6 linked regions of the Homo sapiens genome follow. The protein of the gene in region 1 purifies or fractionates together with the protein of each later gene. This does not show direct contact. Each region holds a gene or a part of one and is shown in the gene's direction. Other genes may lie near its edges.

What was found.
Region 2: the proteins of WDR75 (region 1) and SRFBP1 purify together in Homo sapiens (co-immunoprecipitation; one large-scale study listed by IntAct). This does not show direct contact.
Region 3: the proteins of WDR75 (region 1) and HEATR1 purify together in Homo sapiens (affinity purification with mass spectrometry; one large-scale study listed by BioGRID and IntAct). This does not show direct contact.
Region 4: the proteins of WDR75 (region 1) and UTP15 purify together in Homo sapiens (affinity purification with mass spectrometry; one large-scale study listed by BioGRID and IntAct). This does not show direct contact.
Region 5: the proteins of WDR75 (region 1) and CHM purify together in Homo sapiens (co-immunoprecipitation; one large-scale study listed by IntAct). This does not show direct contact.
Region 6: the proteins of WDR75 (region 1) and APLF purify together in Homo sapiens (co-immunoprecipitation; one large-scale study listed by IntAct). This does not show direct contact.

The regions. Positions count from the first base shown.
Region 1 is NC_000002.12:189,465,474-189,468,973, forward strand, and holds part of WDR75 (WD repeat-containing protein 75), read left to right. Parts: intron 1-951; coding exon 952-1,109; intron 1,110-1,994; coding exon 1,995-2,175; intron 2,176-3,001; coding exon 3,002-3,096; intron 3,097-3,500. UniProt on the Homo sapiens protein: Ribosome biogenesis factor. Part of the small subunit (SSU) processome, first precursor of the small eukaryotic ribosomal subunit.
Region 2 is NC_000005.10:122,024,475-122,027,974, forward strand, and holds part of SRFBP1 (serum response factor-binding protein 1), read left to right. Parts: intron 1-2,467; coding exon 2,468-2,652; 3' UTR 2,653-3,500. UniProt on the Homo sapiens protein: May be involved in regulating transcriptional activation of cardiac genes during the aging process. May play a role in biosynthesis and/or processing of SLC2A4 in adipose cells.
Region 3 is NC_000001.11:236,580,517-236,584,016, reverse strand, and holds part of HEATR1 (HEAT repeat-containing protein 1), read left to right. Parts: intron 1-820; coding exon 821-1,004; intron 1,005-1,144; coding exon 1,145-1,281; intron 1,282-2,602; coding exon 2,603-2,795; intron 2,796-3,500. UniProt on the Homo sapiens protein: Ribosome biogenesis factor; required for recruitment of Myc to nucleoli. Involved in nucleolar processing of pre-18S ribosomal RNA. Required for optimal pre-ribosomal RNA transcription by RNA polymerase I.
Region 4 is NC_000005.10:73,568,743-73,572,242, forward strand, and holds part of UTP15 (U3 small nucleolar RNA-associated protein 15 homolog), read left to right. Parts: intron 1-754; coding exon 755-933; intron 934-1,843; coding exon 1,844-1,969; intron 1,970-3,500. UniProt on the Homo sapiens protein: Ribosome biogenesis factor. Involved in nucleolar processing of pre-18S ribosomal RNA. Required for optimal pre-ribosomal RNA transcription by RNA polymerase I.
Region 5 is NC_000023.11:85,964,059-85,967,558, reverse strand, and holds part of CHM (rab proteins geranylgeranyltransferase component A 1), read left to right. Parts: intron 1-3,500. UniProt on the Homo sapiens protein: Substrate-binding subunit of the Rab geranylgeranyltransferase (GGTase) complex.
Region 6 is NC_000002.12:68,578,124-68,580,662, forward strand, and holds the end of APLF (aprataxin and PNK-like factor), read left to right. Parts: 3' UTR 1-2,039; downstream 2,040-2,539. UniProt on the Homo sapiens protein: Histone chaperone involved in single-strand and double-strand DNA break repair.

The DNA.
Region 1 (3,500 bases):
AAAAGTGACACCTCCTCAAGGGCATAATACCGAATTCTAGGCAAATCCAGGGTTAGAATCCAAATGTTCCCTTGCTCTTCCGTTAACAGCATACTGCCTTTTGAAAAGAGGGAGTGTAGGTAGAAGTGTAGCATAGTATAATGTAGCATGGATGTTGTGATTAGATAAGGAATCCACTCTCGTACTGTGGCTATAATAACCACTTAACAGATCTTTGCTGTGTGCCAAGAACTTGGCTTAGAGCTTTGTACCCATTATCTTACTCTTCAAAAGAACACTGTAAGATAAGCCTGTTGTCTATATTTTATAGGTGAAGAAACAGGCCCAGAGAGATTAAGTGGTTGTCCCTAGTCACTGTTGTTATAACTTGTGCTTTTTTAAAATCACAATCCTATGCTGCCTTGATGTTCTTTTAAGAACACAGTCCTAGTTGTCTTTCATTCACAGCGTTGCCCTCTAAGCTCGAAATAAGCTTTAAGAAGTCATTTAGGTGACTAAAAATAGTAAATAATGACCAGCCAGTTTGACTAAGTAGTTTCCTGTCTATTTTTCCTTGCCCCAGGTGGGGCGTTTCACGGCCTTTCCATTTTTTATTTTCAAAAGTAGGCAGGAATCTGGGTTCTATACAAGTTTCCTACAGAGTTTGATACAGTAGGCTTTTGAGTATCATTGATTGGTGACCTGTATTATCCTCATTTTGTACCAATGTACTAGTGGGTTGACTACTACACAGAATGTTCTCTAAAGTCACACAAGGGCAAAGGTGATATATTAGAACTCTTTGCGTCCTGTGGCCATTAGAGGTAGAGCACTCAATTGTTTGTCATTCTACGTGATTATCAGTTGCCTGTTGTTCAAGATGCTATTGTAAAATGTACAGCATGTCAGAAATTCTTATATACATCACTTTGTCCTCATGCAAGAATAAATTTGTGGTTTCCTTCCCGCTAGGTTTATTCTTAACACTAAAATTAACATGCCACACGAAGACTGCATTACAGCTCTCTGTTTCTGTAATGCAGAAAAATCTGAACAGCCCACCTTGGTTACAGCTAGCAAAGATGGTTACTTCAAAGTATGGATATTAACAGATGACTCTGACATATACAGTAAGTTATTAAATATGTTATGTTTAAAGTGTGCACAATTTTAGGAATTAATTTCTTTTTCTCATGACTTGTATCCATCCTGGGAGGACATTTTCTACTTTATTGAATTCTACAGGATATTGCTTAATCTTAATAGATTTAAGAGATTACATTTTACATGCCTTTTTCCTCAAATCTGTTCTTTTTAAATGGCATTCTTGATTAATCATGTGCTGATTATTCTGTTTTTTTAGGGTAAAGTAAAAGGGGCTTTTACCAAGAGTCCTTTCACTCCTCCACTAGAGGGAGGTCAAGGTCTCCAGGAGAGGGCATAAATTTCAGAACAGTCAGTATTTTGTAGCAGTTCTGACTTAAAGAAGTTGTGGGGAACAGGTTTTCTTGTTTTGTGTCTTTGTTTCTTTTTTATTTTATTTGTTATTTGTGTGTGCATCTTTGTTTCTTAATCCCTACTGCTTATAATGTCCCTCATTTAGCAGTCTCCCTTTAACAGTGGGGGATACAATCCAAGACCCCCCCGCCCCAGTTGATGCCTGAAACTGCAGATAGTACCGAACCCTGTATATACTGTTTTTTTCCTATACATACATACCTGAGATAAAGTTTAATTTATAAATTAGGCACAGTAAGAGGTTAATAACTAATAATAGAATGATTACAATAATATACTGTAATAAAAAGTGAATATGTGCATGCTCTGTGTCTGCCTTTCTCTCTCTTTCAAAATATCTTTTTGTACTGTACACAGCTATTTTCAGACCTCAGTTGACCCCTAGGAACTGAAACCACAGAAAGTGAACCCTCAGATAATGGGAAACTAGGGGGAACTACTGTAGCATTCTCTAGCATTTACACAATTTCTGAACATTATGGCTTATATTTCCACAGAAAAAGCTGTTGGCTGGACCTGTGACTTTGTTGGTAGTTATCACAAGTATCAAGCAACTAACTGTTGTTTCTCCGAAGATGGTTCTTTACTAGCAGTTAGTTTTGAGGAAATAGTCACAATATGGGATTCTGTAACATGGGAACTTAAATGTACATTTTGCCAACGAGCTGGGAAAATAAGGTAGGTAAATCTTCGGGAAGTATGTAGTACTATTTTTTAACTTATTTAAACAAGTCTTAAAACTTTAGTAGTCATTTATGCCCTCTCCAAAAGTAGCCTGAAGGTCAGTGGGGCAAGCAGCTAATCAAAATGCTGGAAAGCCAAAAATTCTGAGTCCACAAACTGTGCCAACATTTCTGAAATTCAGGTTAACATTTAACTCTTGGCCTACATATTTTTTCTTTGGAATACTTTCATGGATGTGCTGAATGGTAACAGAAGCTATACATAAGCCTCAGGGGATCCAAACCTTCTTATTTTCTGTGTATTCCCATAAAAACCGTGTTATGCGCCAACCTCATTGTTTCCGAGAGGTGCAGGGGAAAGTAGCAGCAGCATTTTCAGGTCCTGCTTCAGGTAGTTGGGCCTGAGGACAGAATCAGATGCCTAATGAGATCGTCTCTAATTCCCAGCATGTCTGATTCTGAATTTACTTTGTAAAACTTTCTTCACAATTGAAATCGCAAGTTTTCTTCTTCTTGGTAAATAGGATTTTTGTCAGATGACTGTACGTTTCATGTACATTTTCTCTGTTAGATGTAAATTGGTATACCGCACAGTGTGTTAAAGAATTGGTCATCCGTTCTGTTTTCCTAAAGAAATAGCTAACTAGACCCTTCCTTTTGTACTCCTTAGACACTTTTTTCTTCAGGATAATTATAAACAAAAATATATATGTCTATATAAAAATCTGCATTACATAGAACAGCCGCTGGAAGCCTGCAGTTCTTTGTAACTGAATTTGCTAGAACTGACTGTTGCTAACTTCCTTGTGGTTTTAATCTAGGCACCTTTGCTTTGGGAGATTGACGTGTTCAAAGTATCTACTTGGTGCTACTGAAAATGGCATTCTTTGCTGTTGGAATCTGCTGAGCTGTGCATGTAAGATATTTTTTACTCTAAAGTGATCTGGCAAAGCGCATAAGGAGTTGACATTAAACTTTGGCATTTTAGGACTTAGGGATCATATCATCAGGTCTGTACTTGGAATAGTCAGTTTTTTACGTGACATATGATGCCACCAAAATTTGGAATACTGGGCCTGTAATAGACATTATTTATTAACTGCTTAATTGTTGGTACGTCAGCTTCCATTATCCTTACCTTTTTCTACTGTTTTCAGTGTGTGTGACTTTCTGATGCCCTCCATATTCCCCATCCTCGTAACAATTTGAATAATGTTTTCTGCTCATTTTTAATACTTACTAATCTACATTATCCCTGACAGCTTAAATTCAAATGTAGTCTATCACAGTCCTAACAAATGTGAACTTAGTGGCATTTTA
Region 2 (3,500 bases), on another chromosome or scaffold:
GTCTTGTGCCTCTTGCCTCCTCTGGATCCTAGGAGTTCTCTTCATTCATCAGCGATAGAAAAGTAATGGAAGATTGAATGTGAGGTTTTTATGGTCCAGGCCTTTTACTCACATTTTATTGGCCATAACTCAATTAGCCATGTGACCTCACCTAACTGCAGCAGGAATGGAAACTATATTCTGATTGTATGCCTAAAAGGAAGATAATACAGGATTTGGCAGAAACATGTCAGTATGCCCCATTTATACCATATATTCACAAACACAGGATAACTGTAAATATAAGACATACCTACATTTTCACAATGAGACTATCCAAATAAAGGGTTTTTTGTGCTTAGCTTGTATGCTTAAAATATTTACTAGTTTATTTACATATACAACTCTATGTAATATATAAAATAATACATTCATTTAGAAATACTACCTTATTCAAATCTCAGTTTTTATGAAACAGGTTTTTGTTTTGTTTTGTTTTGTTTTTTTTATTTTTATTATTATTACACTTTAAGTTTTAGAGTACATGTGCACAACGTGCAGATTTGTTACATATGTATACATGTGCCATGTTGGTGTGCTGCACCCATTAACTCGTCATTTACCATTAGGTATATCTCCTAATGCTATCCCTCCCCACTCCCCCCACCCCACAACAGTCCCCGGTGTGTGATGTTCCCCTTCCTGTGTCCATGTGTTCTCATTGTTCAATTCCCACCTATGAGTGAGGACATGCGGTGTTTGGTTTTTTGTCCTTGCGATGGTTTGCTGAGAATGATGGTTTCCAGTTTCATCCATGTCCCTACAAAGGACATGAACTCATCAGTTTTTATGGCTGCATAGTATTCCATGGTGTATATGTGCCACATTTTCTTAATCCAGTCTATCATTGTTGGACATTTGGGTTGGTTCCAAGTCTTTGCTATTGTGAATAGTGCCGCAATAAACATACGTGTGCATGTGTCTTTATAGTAGCATGATTTATAATCCTTTGGGTATATACCCAATAATAGGATGGCTGGGTCAAATGGTATTTCTAGTTCTAGATCCCTGAGGAATCGCCACACTGACTTCCACAATGGTTGAACTAGTTTACAGTCCCACCAACAGTGTAAAAGTGTTCCTATTTCTCCACATCCTCTACAGTTTTTTTTAAACTTTTCATCTCTACAGCCACTCTTTGAATATTGTAACAGATTTCTAGAGCACATGTGATTTGTGTAAGATAAGGGTTGTTTTGATTTCTGTCTAGATAATGTTTTGTAAATATTATCCCAAACAGTGCACTGGTTTATATAACATTTTTACATTTGTTTTCTTAAAGAGGTCTTTAAAAGGCTTCTGACAGGCCGAGCACGGTGGCTCATGCCTGTAATCCCAGCACTTTGGGAGGCTGAGGTGGGTGGATCGTCTGAGGTCAGGAGTTCGAGATCAGCCTGACCAATATGTCTCTACTAAAAATACATAAATTAGCCAGGCATAGTGGCACATGCCTGTAATCCCAGCTACTTAGGAGGCTGAGGCAGGAGAATTGCTTGAACCTGGGAGGTGGAGGTTGCAGTGAGCCAAGATCACGCCACTGCTCTCCATCCTGGGCAACAGAGCAAGACTCCGTCTTAAAAAAAAGAAGTCTTTTGACAATGATTCCTAACTTGCAATGGAGAAATTACATAGTCATAGGACTGATTAAGAAGTCTATATTAAGTTTTTTTGTCTCTCTTTTTCTTTCTGATTCCATCTCCTAAGTTCTGTAAGCAACTAAAATGTGCATTGATGCATATCTTTTCATACTAGTGTATCTTCGCCAAATAAGACTTGGTTCAAAATCATGTAAAATGTTAAGATACTATATGGACTAGAATACAAGTTGCCACCTTCATATCTGGAGATTAATGTTACAACTAAAAAAGAACTTTGTCTTATATTCTTGAGTAGACTTAGTACTATTTGCCTTGTAATAACCACTTTTGGTTCAATAACAGACGGGAGTGGAATCAACTTATAGCCTTTAAAAATGAGTAAGCACTATCAGTATTGTCAGACTCAGTGGAGTGTCTTAGCTAAGATGTGAATTTTCTGGCTACATCTGCTTCATGTACACAGATATCATAAGCTAATGATGTTCCTTTGAAAATACATGATGCCCTTCTTTTTTGCCTTCCATGCTAGTACAACAGAGTGATTCCTTTCTTTATGTTGTTATAAATAAGACAGCACAGCATAAATTAAGAGGCACTCAATAAACATCTACTTATAAGTGTTAGAAAGCATGTGTGTCAAAATTGACTACTTGTATATAAATTTTCAACTTCAAACTATTCCCTGTTAGACTTCAGTTTTAAATTGTGAAATATTCCATTTAAGAAAACAAAATTTCTTTTTTTAACATTGGTTTGAAAAAGATGAAATTTACTTCTCCTATATGCTCTTTAAGTATATAGTTATTATTATTTTTGCTTTCTCTTCCTAGATTTTCCACAGAATGAGCCTCAGATCAAGAATCAGTTTAATAAGAAGCTATCAGGAAGACTTGAAAATACAAAACAGCAATTGCAGCTGCCTCTTCATCCTTCATGGGAAGCAAGCAGAAGGCGAAAAGAACAGCAATCTAATATTGCTGTGTTTCAGGGGAAAAAAATTACGTTTGATGATTGATTAGTGCCTCTTTCTGCAAACTTTTCCATCTAAAAAAAAAAATGTTTTTTTTAAGACAGGATCTCATTCTGTTGCCCAGACTAGAGTACAATATTGCAATCACAGCTCACTGCAGCCTCAAACTCCTGGGCTCAAGTGATCCTCCCACCTCTGCCTCCCAAAGGGCTGGGACTGCAGGTGCATGCACTACCATGCCCAGCTTTCTCACCCCAGGCTCTGCAGCTATTACTTAAACTCGTATTTGAATAAGTCTCTTGGGGAGAATTATAGAATGTTTGTTTTTGTATTTTTTTTTAAAGTAAATTCAACTTACGCTTATATAAGCCTTTCACAAATCCAATATGTACTTAAATTGATTTTTAATAATATCCCTCAGACTGTTTCCCTTATGAAGTAATTTGGGGATTTTAGTGATCTCATATTTTCTCTTTAGTGCTTATCATGAAATGTGCTTCACTGGTTCAGCTCTGTTGTTTCCTTAAACATAAATGTCAATATATATTTAAAATAATAATGGAAACATAGGAAATCAGCTATTTAAACCAGATCACCCTTGTTAAAAATCATTCTTGTTAGCAAACTAAAATAGTAACTTTTATTATGGATGTACAGATAAATATTAATTTTATTATAGTTTTAAGTACTTGTGATCATGTACTTTTTGATTCTAAAATAGTTGTCTAGGACAATTTTGGGATTCTTAATTATATTTTAGTTAAGAAAATTGTTTAAATATAGCAATACAACCAATAATTTGTTTTATGTTTCACTGCATATAAATATTTCCATTAAATCAAGAATGTATATTATCTAGTTTTTACTATACTTATTTTAAAATTTTTGAGGAA
Region 3 (3,500 bases), on another chromosome or scaffold:
GAGTCATATTTGTCATTTTCTTACACCTGTTCTGCATTCTTTTGGCACTTACAGTATAATTTCTAAACACCTAACATTTTGCTGCTTGTTTAAAATCATCTGCAGGTTTGGAGATTTTTGCCATGTACCTTATTCAGATTAGTGGTAAAACAGTGAAATCAAAGAATTCCCTTTAACTATGTCTTGGCAATCCAACTGTTTATCTTCCTGTTTTGAAATATACCTATTTTGGCCAGGCACGGTAGCTCACGCCTATAATCCCAGCATTTTGGGAGGCCGAGGCGGGTGGATCATCTGAGGACAGGAGTTCGAGACCAACCTGGCCAAAATGGTGAAACCTAATCTCTACTAAAGATACAAAAATTAGCCAGGCATGATGGCGGGCACCTGTAATCCTTCCTACTCGGGAGGCTGAAGCAGTAGAATTGCTTGAACCTGGGAAGCGGAGGTTGCAGTGAGCTGAGATTGTGCCGCTGCACTCCAGCCTGGGTGACAGAGCAAGACTCCGTCTCAAAAAAAAAAAAAAAAAAAAGAAATATGCCTATTTATTCCTACCCTTTATTGGATAAACAGTTCATATGAATAAAGTTTGTTTTTAGAGATAATGTTTCAAGGTAAGACATAGATAAAATTTAACTTTGTCTTTCCTTGTGAATAGTGATAAACCTCTTTAAAAATCCGACCAAAGCAGTTCTGTTAATCCTTTCCCCACCAAAATGCACACATAAACAAAACTTTTGCATATTATGCAGAGGAATTCATATAACCCATGTTCAGAACCCTTAGTTTGTACTAGTTTTTGTTTCCTTTAACATTTCAGGAAATCCCCTCAGAATGGCACATTGAACTGATGTTAGACAGAGGGATCCCAGTGGAGCTGTGGGCACATTATGTAGAAGAGCTCAACAGCACTCAGAGGGTGGCCGTGGAGGACTCGGTTTTTCTTGTATTTTCCTTGAAAAAATTTATTTATGCACTGAAAGCTCCTAAATCTTTTCCTAAAGGTAAGATACAAGCTGTGAATCTTTTAAATGTGATACTCTGCAAAACTGAATGATTGACTCCACAATGACTGTCTTGAATAAAAAGCTCCCAGCATGTTCATGTAGGATCTAGCATCATTTCTCTTTCCATGTCCTTGTAGGTGATATATGGTGGAATCCTGAACAACTGAAAGAAGACAGCAGGGACTATCTGCACTTGCTCATTGGGCTGTTTGAGATGATGCTCAATGGTGCCGATGCTGTTCATTTCAGAGTTCTGATGAAACTTTTCATAAAGGTACAAGCCTCCTCCTTTTCAGGCGTACTCTACCCTTAAAGAAGATATGGCTGGCCTGCAATCCCAGCACTTTGGGAGGCCGAGGCAGGCGGATCACTTGAGGTCAGGAGTTCAATACCAGCCTGGCCAACATAGTGAAACTCCATTTCTACTAAAAATACAAAAATTAGCCAGGCATGGTGATGGGGCCTGTAATCCCAGCCACTTGGGAGGCAGAGGCAGGAGAATTCGCTTGAACCCGGGAGGCAGAGGTTGCAGTGAGCCGAGATCACACCACCGTACTCCAGCCTGGGTGACAAGAGTGAGACTCTGTCTCAAAAAAAAAAGATGGGCTGGGCGCAGTAGCTCACGCCTATAATCCGAGCACTTTGGGAGGCCAAGGTGGGTGGATCACGAGGTCAGGAGATCGAGACCATCCTGGCTAACATGGTGAAACGCCGTCTCTACGAAAAATACAAAAAAAATTAGCCGGGTGTGGTGGCGGGCTCCTGAAGTCCCAGCTACTCGGGAGGCTGAGGCAGGAGAATGGCATGAACCTGGGAGGTGGAGCTTGCAGTGAGCGGAGATCGCTCCACTGCACTCCAGCCTGGGCGACAGAGCGAGACTCCATCTCAAAAAAAATAATAAATAAATAAAAAGATACTGTGGGTTATTTGGGTTATGACAGTTTATAATGTAAACAAAAGTAGACTTGTAAACAGTGAAGAGTATATAATAGCACGGGCCCTGTAAAAGAGTACAATCACAATACTAATCGGTAGGTTGAATAGAAACTAACATTGCTACACTCCTACTAATATGTTAGGCCCATTACTATATTTAAAAATAACAACAGCCCAGTCTTTTTGATTGGTTAATACCATTTAAAAATGTGAATACTGGTGTTCAGAGAGGTTATTTAGCACACGTGAAGTTACTCAGGAAATTTCATCCCCAGCACCAGTGACCTCCATGTTGCCAGGCCCAGTGGTCAGTTCCTGTTCTTGCCTGACTTGTTCTCTCTACAGCATTTGACATGGAGTTGGCATTGCTCAGCACATTGTTGAAGTATTTTCTTAATTAGGCGTCCCAGATACTGCTCTTGTCTTGGTTCTGTGTTTTCAAGTGCAAGGTTATAGTGAGGCTTCTGAATATCACTCTTCATTGACATCTTCCCAGTTCATTAAAACATGGAATATGGAATAATTTGAAATGATTAGACAAAGCAAAACTTTGCCTTAAATTATTTGTTTCTTTATAATTGTACACTAGTGAGAAGAGGATTTGGAACCAGCTTATTTGAGTAAGAATTAAAAGTTTGCTTTTTTTTTTTTTTAATTAGGTGCATCTAGAAGATGTTTTTCAGTTATTCAAGTTCTGTTCTGTTTTATGGACCTATGGTTCTAGCCTTTCAAATCCACTAAACTGCAGTGTGAAAACAGTGCTGCAGACTCAAGCTCTTTATGTGGGCTGTGCAATGCTTTCTTCTCAGAAGACACAGTGTAAACACCAACTGGCATCCATATCTTCTCCAGGTATTAAAAGTAGCATTGTTATGTTTTGTCATGACCAACTGTTCATGCTTTCTCTATATGGTTTATGTAGTTTGGAAAATTATAACTTAAAAAAAAATAGCAGAGGGCAGGCGCGGTATCTCACGCCTGTAATCCCAGCACTTTGGGAGGCCGAAGCAGGCAGATCATGAGGTCAGGAGATCAAGACCATCCTGGGCAACATGGTGAAACCCCGTCTCTACTAAAAATACAAAAATTAGCTGGGCGTGGTGGCATGTGCCTGTAATCCCAGCTACTTGGGAGGCTGAGGCTGGAGAATTGCTTGAACCAGGGAGTTGGAGGTTGCAGTGAGCCGAGATTGTGCCACTGCACTCCAGCCTGGTGACACAGCGAGACTCCATCTCAAAAAAAAAAAAAATCGATAAAGGCCAGGCGAGGTGGCTTACACCTATAGTCTCAGCACTTTGGGAGGCTAAGGCAGGAGGATCACTTGAGGCCAAGAGTTCAAGACCAGCTTGGACAACGTGATGAGATCCTGCCTCTACAAAAAATACAAAAATTAGCTGGGCGTGATGGTGCGTGCCTGTAGTCCCAGCTACTCAGTTGCCTGAGGTAGGCAGATGGCTTGTGCCTGGGAGGTCAAGGCTGCAGTGAGCTGTGATTGCACCACTGCACTCCAAACTGGGCAACAGAGCAAGACCCTGTCTCAAAAAAAAAAAAAAAGGG
Region 4 (3,500 bases), on another chromosome or scaffold:
AAGAGTGCTTAACTTGGGTTCCGTGGTCCAGTTTCATGGGGCTTATGAATTCCCTAGAATTGTATGTGATATTTTAGGAAATACACGTTTATCTAGGGAGCTACTCTGTAGCTTTTGGTTAACTTTAGTGGGGTCTGTGGCCCAGCTGAGATTATGAATTACTGACCTGAAGACAACCTTACAGCTGGTAATGACAGCTCTATAGGCCTGTACTGTCTTAGAGGCTCTTATGTTGAAGTCAAGTAGGAAGGTGGATTTTCTTCTTGAATTTATAGTGTTTTGCCCCTTAATAAATTAAGTGGCCATCACAATTTTATATTATAACTTTGTTTTCAGGATTGCCAATGTCCGTGCTGAAATTTGTTAAAATTTAACAGAAATTTATGTAACATGATTCTATTTAGTGGTAAATCTCTTTAGAGTTTTTTAAAGAACTTTTTGAAATTTTAAAAATTAAAGTGCCTTTGCTTCCATATTCAGCAGCTAAGTGGAATTGTTTATATACTAGAAAATATAATTTTAAGGCTATCCTTTAATTTTTTTTAACTTTACAATATAGGAGTATTTACACTTCTTAATTGGTTTGGGGGCAAACACTTGTAAGTTTTCTCTTTCTTTCATGATTTCCCCCTATGAAGACTCCCTGAAACTCAGCTGCTTTTTTTTTAATCTGAGAAAAAGGAGCATTTTATGTTAGAAGGTATCAGAAAAATAATTTTCTTGCTTTTTAATATACTGACCTTCAATCTTTCAGAGCAGTTCATACAGTAGATTTTACAGCTGACAAATATCACGTGGTCTCTGGGGCTGATGATTATACAGTTAAATTATGGGATATTCCAAACTCCAAAGAAATTTTGACATTTAAAGAACACTCTGATTATGTGAGGTGTGGATGTGCTAGCAAACTTAATCCGGATCTCTTTATAACAGGTTGGTGAACTCTATTCCCTCCTGAAGCAAATAATCTCACGGGGATGTACTTTAATGTTGCTATGGGACTCTTTTGGGATGGAGGGGTTTAAATTTTTTTTATAAAGGAATATGTTTCTGATTAATTCTTCAGTTTTTAAATTAATTTTTATGTATGTATGTTTGCATTTATTTTCAGACAGGGTCTCACTCTGTTGCCCAGGCTGGAGTGCAGTGATGTGACCATAGCTCACTGCATCTGCTACCTCCTGGGCTCAAGTGATCCTCCCACATAAGCCTCCCAAGTAGCTGGGACTACAGGTGCCCACCACCACGTCCAGCTACTTTGTGTATTTTTTTGTAGAGACGGTTTTGCCATGTTGCCCAGGCTGGTCTCGAACTCCTGGGCTCAAGTGATCCACCTACCTCAATTTCCTCCCGGAGGACTGGGATTACAAGTGTGAGCCACCATGCCTGGCTTCCAATTGTTTTTTATTTTCTTATTCTTCTTTTGTTGATTGTTCATGTCTTCCAAATGTGTTTGGAAAAATCAGGCTGTCTTGAAAACATAATAGACTCTCAGAACTGTAATGTATAGTACCCTGCCTCAAGCAGCCAAGAAACAAAGAGTGCAGTTTAGCCTTTGTGGGTGCCTTTACAAAGATTTCCAGATGATTCAGTAGTGACAGTAGTCCAAAGAAAGAAATATTTTAAGATCAGAGCAAGTTAGATTCTGTATAGTATTATGTAGTGCTTCTTCAGACACGATCAGTAGTAGATGGTTTGGAGGTCCTGTGTCTTCATGAATATACATATATGTCTTTTTAAAACTCCATCTAAGCTTTTTTTCCTTTTAAAATTTATATCTGGATACACACAGTTTTTGTTGTTTTAAACAGTCAAACTAAAAATTCAAAAATTGACATTTTAGGATCATATGATCATACTGTGAAGATGTTTGATGCACGAACGAGTGAGAGTGTTCTCTCCGTTGAGCATGGGCAGCCAGTGGAGAGTGTCCTACTTTTCCCCTCTGGAGGTCTTCTGGTGTCAGCAGGTACTTCTTAAAAATAGCTTTCACCAATATTGTTGGTTTTGAATCACGTTTGTTTAAAATCAGTTGCTCTTTGTAATTTATCAGTGTGCATTTGAATTGCATATCTAAGTCTTTGTTCAAACAGTTGATAGGTAGGACTGGCAAGCAGTTATCATTTATTGTGTACCTAATGTGAGCCAGGCACTGTGCTGTTACATATGAACTCTAATGCCCTAGATGATGCTACAAGGTAGTTAGCTTTTTCCCTACTTTACAGCAATGAAATAAAAGTTTTAACTTATTTTTCAAGGCAAAGTGGTAAGTGGCAGATCTGAAATCACAGAACTCGAGAGCTCTGTGTATTTAGCCCTGTGCCATCTTATTTATTTAGCCCTGTGCCATCTTATTTAACCCCAGAAATTTAGCCCTGTGCCATCTTATTTAACCCCAGAAATTTAGCTCTTATGTATTTAGCCCTGTGCCATCTTATTTAACCCCAGAAATTTAGCTCATACTCCTTTTACTCCTACCTAAGAGATCTGCAGCAGCTTTTGAAAATCAGTTATTTGAGATCTAGTAGGCTTGTCTCTTTTTCTGTGACTCTCTTGATTGAAATGCCACTACCCAGCAAATAGCTGCTAGTACTAGAGAAAGGAGATAATGTGGCCTCAAAAGGGGCCTTGGTACATTTTTCAACAAGTTGGGACTGAGATGTTTTTCTCATTTTGCACATATTGCATTTTCATAATTACAGTGGAAGAAGTAAATTGGCTTTTTTCATTTGTAAATAAAGTAAAAATGTGTTCATATTAGAAGAATGTATAGGTAGTATGTATACTTGACAACATATATATTGCTGTGTGTACCTCCTTTTTTTTTTTTTCTTAATTCTAAAATCTGGCTAGAAATTACTCTGTTTTATATTCTTTTCCCCAGTACCTATTTGATTTAAAAATAAGTTGAGGCGGGATGTGGTTGCTCACGCCTGTAATCCTAGCACTTTGGGAGGCTGAGGCAGGCGGATAGCTTGAGTCCAGGAGTTTGAGACCAGCCTGGGCAACATAGCAAGACTCTAAGACTCCATCTTTAATTAAAAAAAGAAAAAAGTTGATAATGTCAGATGTGTCTACTTTTCTTGCTGTTATTCTGACAAATGGAAAAAATATCATGTTGAACAGGGAGAATAGAAAGCTGTGTGCTGATCTCCACTGTGTGTCACTAGCTAATTGTGACCTCGGGCAATCCCTTAAGGTCTCTAGACCTTGAAAATGAGAGGGTTGGACTAGATCAGTGATTTCAACTGTGATCCCTCTTGTGAGGTGCCACATAGGAGTGGAGAGGTGGGAACTGTGAGTTGGGTTCCAACTCCTGTTCCCCAGTCAAGATTTCAGTCTCCCCTTCCATCCCTTTTTCTGTCTTTCCATATTAGACTTTTTTGCTTGATATTTTGCTGCAGATCTACATTATTCACTTCCACTGCTATATAGAATTTCTTTTAAAAAATGATTTTATTATAATTTTCTTAAAATGGACTCTTTCAGTTATACATTTA
Region 5 (3,500 bases), on another chromosome or scaffold:
TTCAACTTTGTAATGGTTTTATTGGGGTATTAAATGCACTTTGTCTTACTATATTGGGTTTATCAGGACGTAACCCCATCATAAGTCGAGGAGCACCTGTGTATGTTAAAATCATTGTAATATCTTAGAACTCCAAGGTTCATTTGAAGGCTTATAATGCAGCTACATTGTTTTGTAATTGGTAAATGTGTTTTTATAGTTTTCAAACACTTTTAAATTAGTAGAATTGAACTATTACTGGATTCTGAGGTTTTCTCTGAAAGGTTGAATATCTTTTTAAGAAAATGTCTTTTACCACAGTATAAAGTTTTAAATTTGGGGAAAGATAACCCTTTTAGATGAACAGAATTTTGCTTTCTGAGGATGTCAGTGGAGTTTTAGGAGCTTTTGGGTGTCTTTATATTTTCTCATTAGGTATTAACTTCAACCTTGGCAGAACTCCAAAAATACTGTGGTTGTTTTTAATGGAAAGTGAGGACAGTGTTGTGTTTTTATTGCTTGTGTTTTCCGTAGTGCTAGGAATCTCACCAAATTATAATGTTGAGAACAGTAAAACGATAGTTTATTGATGTAGAAAAAATTTCCGAAGAATAATTTCTTCTCTTCGCTTATACCTTTAATTAAGTATTTTGACTTATATCTTCCAGGTTGTCCAGTACTGGTTAATGTATTTCATTCACTCTATAGGGCCCCCATCACAGAATGTAATAGAGAACCACTGACTAGATCATTTGCTATGCTCAGTTTTCACAGTGTCATCATCATAGTCTGTAATAAGAGAAGTTGCCATATTTTGTCTTATCTGTAAAGTGTAATTAATTATCCTTTCTTAAAATTAAAGGCATGGAACTTTTGCTTTAAGAGTTAGGCATGGAACTTTTACTGAAAAACAAAAAATTAGGTGTGGAACTTTTGCTGAAAATTGTCCCCTTAGATCCCTCATGTAACACACTTTAGTTTTGTTGGTTTTCAAGATAATAAAAGTGAATAAGAGTGTGAACAATTCTGTAGAAAATATATAAATCACCTTTCATATTATGACTCTTCATTCTTAATGCTGTTAATAGCGATGCTATTATGTGCTTATATGGCCAATGGGCTTTTGTCATGTGAATGCAGAAAACCTAGGTATACAGGTTTTGAGTTGACTGTTGAGCTGTGGGCAGTTTAACAATATCTTATTTTTGAGTAGTTTTTTTTTTTTTTTTTTAGACGGAGTTTTGCTCTTGTTGCCCAGGCTGGAGTGCAATGGGACGATCTTGGCTCACTGCTACCTCCGCCTCCTGGGTTCAAGTGATTCTCTGGCCTCAGCCTCCCAAGTAGCTGAGATTACAGGTGCCCATCACCACGCCCAGCTAATTTTTGCATTTTAGTAGAGACTAGGTTTCACCATGTTGGTCAGGCTGGTCTTGAACTCTTGACCTCAAGTGATCCACCCACCTCGGCCTACCACAGTGCTGGGATTACAGGTGTAAGCCACCGTGCCCGGCCTGATTAGTATCTTATCTTTGATTAACCTTTTAGAGTTTATAAACTACTTTTCATATATGTTAGCTTCCTTATCTCACAACAGTTTCATAAAAGGTAAGGCAAATGGACTGATCCCCATTTTATATGTGGTGAATCAGAGAGATTAAATGACTTGCCAAGTGTTTCCTAAGTGATAAATCTAGGATAGAACAAAGTGGGTGTTTTCCTCACTTTGGTTTCCTAGATCTCAAAAATATTCATGTAACATTAATGATATCAATTTGTTTCTTCACTAGATTTTATTAGAATTACTATAACAGTAAATATGGCATTTTATTTCTTGACATTTGAGTGTTATTCTATCATTGTCCCTCATTTTTTTTTGTAGTGTTCATTGTGTTATTTTTAATAAGGCACTTCTTTTTTTCACTTAACTCGGACTTTCTAATTTACAATACCGTGTTTTTTTCTTGGCCTTATTTTTTGTGTTTTTTGCAACAAGTTTGTTTCGCATTTGAAACAAAAATAGTCTGCACGTATAAACCATTATTAATTAAGCATTTATTGGATACCACATCTATGGAGCAGTGTGGTAGGTGTCGTGAGGGGCACAGAAGGAGCGGTGCTAAGGTATTCCCTCAAGGAATTACAGTCTGATTTGGAAGATAAAGGATATACTGGAAAACTAAAGGACTATTAAAAAGGAATGGATAAATACATGCAAGGTAAACTGCATATGTGTATTATGGGAGCATGGTATAATAGAGTGATGAGTGTAATTGGAGTAAGGAAGACTAATTGGAAGTTAAATTTAAACTTTTTCTTAAAGTAGTTTGCTAAAGTATGTGATTATGTTTGAGAATGGAAGAATTGTGATATTATGCAGAGTGGGAAGAAAAGGACAGAAGAAACAAATGATATGAACCAAACTGTCATGATTTGACAATTAGAATTGATAAATTCGGAGTTAGAGATGCCATGTTGGAAAGTAGGTGGAGATGAAACCAGAAGATTAGTAAATAAGGAAGGTGGTTTGGTTTAGAGACAGGAAAAGGAAGATTTTTTTGTGGGGTATTTGATATAAGGAAGGGCTACTGTTAGGGCTACTGTTAGTCAACTAGCAGATTTTTACTTGCCAAGACCAATCACATACAAGGCATTCTGCCAGGTATTGAGCAGTGTGGCAACTCAGTGAAAATAGTGGGTTCTGTGGAGGATAAAATATCACAGAAATTCATAAAGCAGGCAGACTGAATGGGAGCCTGTTCTATAAATCAAGACAATGGTGGACTGAGAATGTTAGCTCCAATAATAAATTTGGAAATGGGGCTTCGACTAGAGTAATAGACATCAGTACTAAAATAGGCAGGAAATTATACAGAAAGGTCCTATTAGATACCACATTGTGATAGGCCAACTTAATCTTTTCAAGGCAGATATTTTTCCCTTTATTGAAGGTCTTCTGTCGTATCACCAAGTCAGGAATTCCTCAGTAATAATCATCTTTGATAACTACCACTGTTGAGTATTTACTATGTCCCAGGCACTGTGTCAGGCTCTTTGCATGCAGTACTTAATTTAATCTTCAAAACAACCTTGTGGTAGGTGGTATTATCTCTGTGTCATAGATGGGTAATTTAGGTGGTCTCAGAGAGGGTAATTTAGGTAATTACCTAAATTGAGGGTAATTTAGGTGGTCTCAGAGAGGATACATAAGTATCTAAGTTCGCAGAGCTTACTAGTCATATGGTCAGGGTTTGAACCAAGATCTGTTATTCTGAAGACTGTGTTCTTCATCACTGTGGTAATTTGCTTCCAATACAGTTCCCCTGTCTGTCTTAAATTCTCAAAAATGTGCATGTGACATGAAATCTTTATATCTTTCAAATCTTAATTTTGTTTCATATTTTACTGAAACATTAACAGATGAATGTTTAATGTCTGAGTCACATAAGCAAAACGTACACTGAACTTGATAAAAGGGGTAAGGGAATATATATATAAAGCCTGGTGTTTATTATTATATTTCT
Region 6 (2,539 bases), about 120 Mb from region 1:
TTTGATAGTTAATGACTTTTACTACTGACTCTTTACAAATGAGACATTGAAACGTCAGCCTTCAGTATAATAGATGGAATTTTTTGTTGCCTTGCCTTTTCTTTCCTACTTAAAGCATCTGGAAATAGGAAGACAGAGAAGGTAGAGTAAAAATGGATATTTTTTATGTACTTTGTATATTGGTAATAAAAAGTAAAAGCCATAGGTTGCATAAAACTTTGGTCTTTTTAAATTTTTTTCCAAAGATTATGGAGTACTCTGCAAGTATAACCAGGCAAAGTACATGAAAACATGCCTCTTTTCATTGTTACTGAAGTAATTCTGTAAGCAGAACCAGGCTTTAAAAAATGCAGCCATTACATAATGGCGTTTTTTTTCTAGTACCTTAGATGTGAGCTTTGCAATTTCACTTACTACTTTTATCCTTCAAAACTTGGGAAGATTGGTTCCAAATGGGTACTGAAAATAGATTCAACTAGGCTGTAGAAGAGAAATGTTCACCATGTAGGGAATGTTATTTTGTGTTCCACATCTGCAATTTACTGTATGTTTGAATTTAAAAGTAAAAAAACTCAAAAAACTTGACCTTTTTTTTCAAACTAAAGTCCTAGCTGATTATTTTAACTCTCAGTGTGCTGTCTTTATATTAAGAATAGAGAAACGACATAACTTTCTCAAATGGCATTAGTTTTGCCTTAGTTTTTTTGACCTCAGATGAAAGTAGCAAGTTGTTTGCCAGTTGAAAGTTCAAGATTCTGGCCTCCCATATCAAGAAGAAACCACTTATTCTCCAGTTTTACAAAGTATCTTTCTGTATTTCTGTTCTAAAACTACTTTAAGCCCTATAATGCTCTTCATATTACGTGACTTTGAATTGTTAAAATGTAGTTTAGAATCTTTAATAACAGTTGGGTTGTGTACACAGAGCAGGAGATATTTATTGAAATCATAAATCACTAAGCCAAAAGAATCTTTGTTAAATGCTATTATTTTCTACTCTAAAGGAACCTAAAAATTTATATCTTAAAAGATCAAAACATATTTATAATAATATTTTCTCATTGCTTTAAAATATATCTCCCAGTAATTATACAATATTTAATATTTACTTAAACTGGAACAAGAATAAGATAAACATTTCTCTAGACTATAACCTATTATTCTGATTTTTATCTCTTATTGTTATTTGGGAACTATTTTTCCCCTTATAATGTCCCTTTAGCCTTGGTAGTATAACAAATCTACGAATGTAATATTTAACTTATTCTCATCCCTGCCACTAACTTAATCCTTGAAGTGTTACATAATCTACTCCTAGGTATATACCCAGAGGAATTGAAAACATTTCCACATAAAAACTGTACACAATGTCAATAGAAGCATTATTCTTAACAGCCAAAAAGTATAAACACCCAAAGTCTATCAACTATCAACTGGGTGAATGGATAAGCAAAACGTGGTATATCTGTGCAATGGAATATTATTTGGTCATAAAAAGGAATAAAGTACTGATACATGCTACAAGATAGATGAACCTTGAAGGCAAGTAAAAGAAGCCAGACACAAAAGGCCACATACTGTATGAACTCATTTATATGAAATTTCCAAAACAGGCAAATCCATAAAGACAGAAAGCAAATTTGTGGTTGCCAGGGACTTGGGGAGGAAGAATGGGGAGTGACTGCTAATGAGTATAGGATTTCCTTTTGAGTGATAAAAATGTTCTAAGATTAGATGGCAGTGATGGTTGCACAACTCTGTAAATATATTACAAACAATGCATTGTACACTTTCAAAGGGTAGATTTCATTGCACGTGAACTATATATTTCAATAAATCTGTCACAAAAAAGTAATGCAAAGGGTAATACCAGTCTTTTAGAAGGAAAAAAATATTTAATATCAAAGGATATTCTTCGTAGTAATGTAATAGTTCATGGTAGCTGCTTTTAACGATACAGTTTTAATGCAACTTTCATAATCATCCTGAAGACACTTTTGAGTATAACTATTGTATAAATAAATGTATAGCTTAATTGACTGAAGTGTAATGAAAATGAAAGTGTAATTGGACTGTGTTTAGATCTGTGTTTTCCAAAACAGAGGGAAAACCGGTAACATTAGGCTGTCAGTGGTCTCAAGAGCACCATTAACAAAGCTTGATTTTTTAAATTAATTGCTGTTCTATACAGTGGATAAGAGCCAATTCTCCCTGTCATGGTGTTCCTGGAACTGAAACTATATCCCAGCCTCCTCTGTCATGGTAAAAATTATCATATATACATTTCTCACCTATGTGCCTAATTTTAAAAGCAAATATTTTCTGGCTAAACTTTTGAGGGGGGATGGGTTTTCTAGGACCCTGGGAAACTGGAGACCTGAAGAGTTTTGGGGGACACTTGAACACTGACTTTGGTGTTTTCCCCTGGTTGAGGATGGCCCTATTGATACTGAGTTTCTAGAACTAGAGGATCCTAAACATTCATTGTAATGAAAGCAGATAGATTGTGAGCATAATTACTCCAGAATGTTGATGTAAA